Homo sapiens: one gene and its partner. The protein of the gene in region 2 purifies or fractionates together with the protein of the main gene of each other region. This does not show direct contact. Each region holds a gene or a part of one and is shown on either strand. Other genes may lie near its edges.

The links. Proteins that work in one complex are often made in the same cells at the same time.
Region 1: the proteins of SEMA4B (region 2) and DCBLD2 purify together in Homo sapiens (affinity purification with western blotting, with the first as the bait; one study listed by BioGRID). This does not show direct contact.

Annotation. Positions count from the first base shown.
Region 1 is NC_000003.12:98,811,181-98,814,695, reverse strand, and holds part of DCBLD2 (discoidin, CUB and LCCL domain-containing protein 2 precursor), read left to right. Parts: intron 1-2,213; coding exon 2,214-2,364; intron 2,365-3,141; coding exon 3,142-3,228; intron 3,229-3,376; coding exon 3,377-3,502; intron 3,503-3,515.
Region 2 is NC_000015.10:90,221,815-90,225,329, forward strand, and holds part of SEMA4B (semaphorin-4B isoform 1 precursor), read left to right. Parts: intron 1-1,744; coding exon 1,745-1,926; intron 1,927-2,023; coding exon 2,024-2,174; intron 2,175-3,153; coding exon 3,154-3,364; intron 3,365-3,467; coding exon 3,468-3,515. UniProt on the Homo sapiens protein: Inhibits axonal extension by providing local signals to specify territories inaccessible for growing axons.

The sequences.
Region 1 (3,515 bases), on a different chromosome or scaffold from region 2:
TTACCCCTTTTCTGAGCCTGCACATGTGCATGAGTACGCAGAGACTGCATTTGGTTTTGTTTTTAGAAAATGGGATTTATATATATATATACAATTTGTTTTCATAATATATCACTTTCTAACATTATGCCATATTTATGTGTGGTAATCAATAAAATTTAAGTTTCTTGAGGGTGGGAACTGTAGCAACCATATCCATTTTCTCTTCATGACACCTCACATACTTCTCTGTACATGAGGATTCTCAGTAAATGCTCATAGGTTGACTATAGCAAATCTTTTTTACTCAGTTTTTATAAAATTGAGACAGCAATATAGAGGAATATCTTAAAGATAGTTTTTATGTGTTAAAGTAATGATTTGTTATCGTCCCTGTTCCACTAATATAGTAAGAATGAAAATAATTGCCTTTCATTTTATTTCAGAGTAATATCTGAGGAAATCACGGGAGCTCACTAGTATGGAAGTTATTGTAACTGCAAAACAAACTTTTTAGGAAATGAAGGATATTAACACATCTTTCGAGATTTATAGTCTAATGCCAAGTGAATTAGCCAAGAAGAAATAGAGCCACAATACTTGGAAATAGCTTGATTGAGAAGTTAAACATTTACTTAATCTCATCTTAGCTGATTAGAAAAAAAATCACTTTGATTTTAGGCAATATATGCTTATTAATGGTCTTTAGAAACTACCTAGTTGATCTGACCTAGAGAACAAACAGGGCTCTTTTTAGCTTATTGGAGTCCATACTTAAGTCGGAAGACCCAGAGTCAAGTTGCTGCCCTGTCATTGACTAGCTGTGCAATCCACTTACAGATTCCTGTGCCCTCCTATTTCATAGGGTTGTCTGAATTAGTTACATTAAAATGTTTTATAAATAATTAAGTGCTGGTCCATTGTAAGATACTATCATTATTTGCTTGAAGTAGTTAAGGGAATGAGACTCACCTAAACTCATATTTTTACCTAGGGATTATTTTTATAATGCATTTGTTGCTAGTTAGTTACAAGCATTAAATTAGTCACAGGCCAGGCGTGGTAGCTCACACCTGTAATTCCAGCATTTTGGGGGAGGTCTAGGTGTGAGTATACTTGAGGACAGGAGTTTGAGACCAGCCTGAACAGCATAGCAAGACCCCTTTCTACAAAAATAAAAAATCACCAGGTGCAGTGGCTCATTCCTGTAATCTCAGCACTTTGGGAGGCTGAGGCAGGTGGATCCCTTGAGGTCAACATGGTAAAACCCTGTCTCTACTAAAAATGCAAAAATTAGCCGGGCGTGTTGGTGCACACCTGTAATCCCAGCTACTCAGGAGGCTGAGGCAGGAGAGTTGCTTGAACTTGGGAGGAAGAGGTTGCAGTGAGCCAAGATTGCGCCACTGCACACTAGCCTGGGCAACAAAGCGAGACCTCTTTTCTAAATAAATAAGTAAATATTGCCACACATGTTGGCATGCGCCTCTGTAGTCCTAGCTACTCAGGAGGCTGAGGTGGGAGGATCTTTTGAGCCCAGGAGTTCTAGGCTGTATTGTGCTATGATCCCGCCAATGCATTCCTTGGATGACAGAGCAAGACTCTATCTCTAAAAATAATTAATAATTTAAGCATAAAATAGCATTTCAAAGTCACTTCTAGTTTAAATAGCAGCATGGAACAAAAACCGGGATAATAGGAGAACTGTCTTTATGCAGTTTATCCAGTAGGTGGAGGTATATATCTGTTATATGTTTGTTAGTATATGTTCACCTTCAGCCTGTTGAGAGAAAAATTATGAAAAGTACACAAGCAAAATATTTCCCCTAAGACTTGGCATGATCAATTTTGTTTTACTTTAAAAATAAAAATTAATATATTTAAATAGTTGGTAATTCCACAGGACTAGAGTTACTGATTTACTAATAGGATAAATTGTCTCACTGGATTTGAAACCTTTTACCCAAATGCCAAGTTAGCCCTCTTGTTAAGTTCTTAAATCATCTTAAAATCATTTCTATATTAAATATTTTTGTTTCATAAACTTTTGATAAAAATGTGCAGCATCTTAATATTTTTCCAAATTATGATTATTTTCTTAAAAATTGATCCTTATTATCATACTTTCCAGATGTAATTTAAGGCCTAGAGCAAAGAACAAAAACATGTTTAAGTGGAGAAATTTAGCCCTGACCTCTATTGATTTGAAGTACCAATTTTTTGTTGTTTTTTTAAAGATATTTCAAGGAAACAAAGATTATCACCAGGATGTGCGTAATAACTTTTTGCCACCAATTATTGCACGTTTTATTAGAGTGAATCCTACCCAATGGCAGCAGAAAATTGCCATGAAAATGGAGCTGCTCGGATGTCAGTTTATTCCTAAAGGTAAAGAGACAGTTCGTTTAAGATATGTTTTTACTGGATTGCCAATTTAAAATGGTTTTGCTGTTCTCAGAGAGAGTAATTAATAATGTGAGTGTCTTTCTGGTTAAACTCTAATTACAATATCTTCTTAAAGGGATGTTAAAAAAAATGGTTACCCTATTAAAAAGTTAGTTATAAGAATGGTTTCCAAAATTATAAGTGGAAGAAGAAATAGCATCATTCATAAGATAATGTAAATGAGATCACTTTCCAAATTTAATCTCAATCCTAATAATTTTAAATCAGGTGTCATGTACTGTAATATTTGTTTAACATAAGCATGAAAGATTGTAACAATACATTTAAAGCAAGAATAATTTATCTCAATATTATACATTTTAATATACTGTTTACTTTTGTACGCCCAAAGGCTACCACAGTGCCTGACACATCGTTGGCCCTCCATAAATAACTATTAAATGAATTGAATAAGTACTGTATCAAAATGTGGATGACTCCTTTATAGCTTTAGCATTCAACATCACTTTCCACCCCATTATTCTTCTTCCTAAGATTATTTTCAGATGATTTAATTATTTAAAAACTGAGAAATCCTGGCATATTTGTGCCTTTATTGCAGAGTATAATATTTATCCTTCCAATATATTTCTCTCTGAGAGTTAAAATTATTCTGCAGAATTAAATACTTTAGGAAATATTGAAGACATTTAGCATTACTATTTTTAATTATGATTTTTAAAAACAAAATGTTTAAATTTTTCTAAACCATTTTTCAAGGTCGTCCTCCAAAACTTACTCAACCTCCACCTCCTCGGAACAGCAATGACCTCAAAAACACTACAGCCCCTCCAAAAATAGCCAAAGGTATGCCTGTTTTTAATGTGAGAATTTGATATTCCTTGGATTTATGGTGCAACTTTCCAAAAATATATTAAAAGCATTATCAAATAAGTTTATGTTAATCAAGTTGGTACAGATTAAAAAGTAAAGAGCTTTTGAAACTTTTTTAAAGGTCGTGCCCCAAAATTTACGCAACCACTACAACCTCGCAGTAGCAATGAATTTCCTGCACAGACAGAACAAACAACTGCCAGTCCTGATATCAGAAATACTACCGTAACTCCAAATGTAACCAAAGGTATGCAAACATG
Region 2 (3,515 bases):
CCACAGCTGCAAGATCACCCACATCCATGCATGGCCTTTCCCATCCCGCCAAGGAGTACAGCTTGGCTAACAGCTTTTCTCTCTCACCTTTTAAATTAAAATATCTTACTACTTTTTTCTTTTTTTTTTTTCTTTTTATTTTTAGACAGGATCTTTGCTCTGTCACCCAGGCTGGAGTGCAGTGGCACGATCACGGTTCACTGCAGCCTCGACCTCCTGGGCTCAAGCAGTTCTCCTACCTCAGCCTCCCGAGTAGCTGAGACTACAGGTGTGCGCCCCCATGCCCAGCTAATTTTTGTATTTTTTGTAGAGATGGGGTTTTACCACGTTGCCTGGGCTGGTCTCAAACTCCTGGGCTCAAACAATCCACCCACCTCGGCTTCCCAAAGTGCTGGGATTACAGGCATGAGCCACTGCACCCAGCCATTTTTTTTCTTTTCTTTTTTTTTTTTTTACTTAAAAAATGTGAAAATAGCCGGGCATGGTGGCTCACGCCTGTAATCCCAGCACTTTGGGAGGCCAAGGTGGGTGGATCACCTGAGGTCAGGAGTTTGAGACCAACCTGGCCAACATGGTAAAACCCCATCTCTACTAATAATACAAAAGTTAGCTGGGCGTGGTGGTGCACGCCTGTAATCCTAGCTACTCAGGAGGCTGTGGCAAGAGAATCGCTTGAACCTGGGAGGTGGAGGTTGCAGTGAGCCGAGATGGTGCCACTGCACTCCAGCCTGGGTGACAGAGCAAGACTGTCTCAAAAAAAAAAATGTGAAAATAGAAAACTGTACACACAAAAATCACTTACAAGTTAAAGAGGCACTGTAGCATCAGCTGGAGAGCACAGACCCTGGAGGCCAACTGCCCAAGTTCAAACCCTGCTGGCCTAGGATCTTGGGCAAGTCCCTCACCCCCTCGGTTAACAGTTTCCTCTTCTGTTAAATAGGAAGAATAACACTGACCTCAGAGTTGTTATGTGAATTATTAATCCACGCAAAGCTCTTAGAAATGTGGTGGGCAGTGACTAAATGTGAACTATGAATGTTATTACCCCACCACCCCAGCACAAGAAGGAGTCACTGGTATCATTTTAGAATGCCCCCTCCAAATCTTTTTTTTTTTTTTTGGCATATGTGTAACTCTGTGTATATATATATATACATTTTTTTTTTTCCTTTTTGAGACAGGGTCTCACTTTGTCATCCAGGCTGGTGTGCAGCGGTGAGATTTCACTGCAACCTCCGCTGCCCAATCTCAAGCAATCCTCTCACCTCAGCCCCTCATGTAGCTGGGACTACCAGCATGCACCACCATGCCCAGCTAATTTTTTTGTATTTTTAGCAGAGACAGGGTCTCAAACTCCTGAGCTCAAGTGATCCACCCGCCTTGGCCTCCCAAAGTGCTGGAATTATAGGCATTAATAATATAAGTACCATCCCGACCTTGTACTTATATTATTAACTCACTCAGGAACATGGCATTAGGCTATATTGGGGTCCTTTGGCTTCCTTGTTTGCTCAGCAGTGAATCGCGTCCATATTTAGGAAGGCTCTGCTTAGTTACAGTAAGGACCATCCTCCTGATGGATGCGTACACTGCTCTTCCTGACTTTAGATGGAACTTGGTCCTGGCCTTCTCCTGCCCTTCAGTCCTGGTGTCTGGGGTGGGTCCATTGAGGCAGTCCTGTGCCGTGCATCCCCGTCATGGCTCAGCATGTGCCTAAGCCCAGCCCATCCGACTCTCCCTCCAGGGCGATGAGGGTGGAGAGCGGGTGCTACAGCAGCGCTGGACCTCCTTCCTCAAGGCCCAGCTGCTGTGCTCACGGCCCGACGATGGCTTCCCCTTCAACGTGCTGCAGGATGTCTTCACGCTGAGCCCCAGCCCCCAGGACTGGCGTGACACCCTTTTCTATGGGGTCTTCACTTCCCAGTGGTAGGGCCTCCAGACCTCGCTGGAGATGGAAGGGTGAAGGGTGGCTGGGACTGGGGCCCCCAGGGCTCCTGGGTTAATCTGGTTATTTCCTCTGCAGGCACAGGGGAACTACAGAAGGCTCTGCCGTCTGTGTCTTCACAATGAAGGATGTGCAGAGAGTCTTCAGCGGCCTCTACAAGGAGGTGAACCGTGAGACACAGCAGTGGTACACCGTGACCCACCCGGTGCCCACACCCCGGCCTGGAGCGGTGGGTACTGGCTCCCTGCACCCAGAAGGGGTGCCGGGAAGATGTGGGTCCCCACACCATGCTGGGAGCAAGGCTGCCTAGCCTCGGGCAGATCACTTGGCTTCTCTGAATCTCTTTTCTCATCTTTAATATGGGGATATAGGCCCAGGCCTGCTTGTGTACTGGGTTAGATATAAGTATGAATGTCAGAATATCTTCAGTTCTGTTTCAGGATACAAGTGTGTCCCCATCAGGGCACTTGCTGCAGGCTGTTACAATCATCTCTTCATTTGGTCCTCTCCCCTACTCAGCTGCAAGCTCCTTATTTAATTATCAAGTGACTGAATGGGCAAGCTGTGGGGAAATAATCCTTTCTTCCTCCCTTCTAGCCTAACGGGCTACCCTGATAGCAGACCTTGAGACAAGGATATACGTGCCAAATAGTTTATTAGGGAGGTGATGCCAGGAAGCAGCATGAAGGAATAGGAAGGTTGAGAGGAGGAGGGAGGGAAACCAAAAGAGGGTGTGTCAGCACGCTGTTGTTGCTGTGGGCAGCTGGAGCTGGGTCCTGCTGGAGCCCCTGACAGATGGTGTGGAGCACCTCTCAGAATTTCAGGAAGCCTCAGGCGGGGCAGGAAAGAACTGCCGACTGCACTGGGACGCTCTGCCCGGCCAGGGCTTCCTGAGAGCACTGGTGAAGGGTGCAGAGGAGCAGGGAGTGTGGTCCTGGTTCTTGAGGCCCCTGGGCATATGAGGCTGGGGTGGTGGGCAGGGAGGAGGCACAGCAAGGAAGCCCTCCAAGCACTCGGTTTCCCCGCACCCTGGGCTTTGTCCTTGCTCCCTCAGATGTGCACACTGGCTCTGTAGAGCACTGCCAGGGATGTGCCCTGGCTCCGGGCGGGGGGACAGACACCGCTACTGTCCACTGGGGAAGCAGGGCCCGCATCCTGCCTGCCACCCCGAGGTGTGGCTGGCCTCACACTGCTGCTTTCTCCTCCAGTGCATCACCAACAGTGCCCGGGAAAGGAAGATCAACTCATCCCTGCAGCTCCCAGACCGCGTGCTGAACTTCCTCAAGGACCACTTCCTGATGGACGGGCAGGTCCGAAGCCGCATGCTGCTGCTGCAGCCCCAGGCTCGCTACCAGCGCGTGGCTGTACACCGCGTCCCTGGCCTGCACCACACCTACGATGTCCTCTTCCTGGGCACTGGTAAGTGTCTGCAGCCCAGCAGGCTCAGGGGAAGGGGTGCACGTGGCTGGTGGGTCATGGGCAGTGGGCTCCACCCAGGGCCTGAGTCCTGTCCACACCCCAGGTGACGGCCGGCTCCACAAGGCAGTGAGCGTGGGCCCCCGGGTGCACA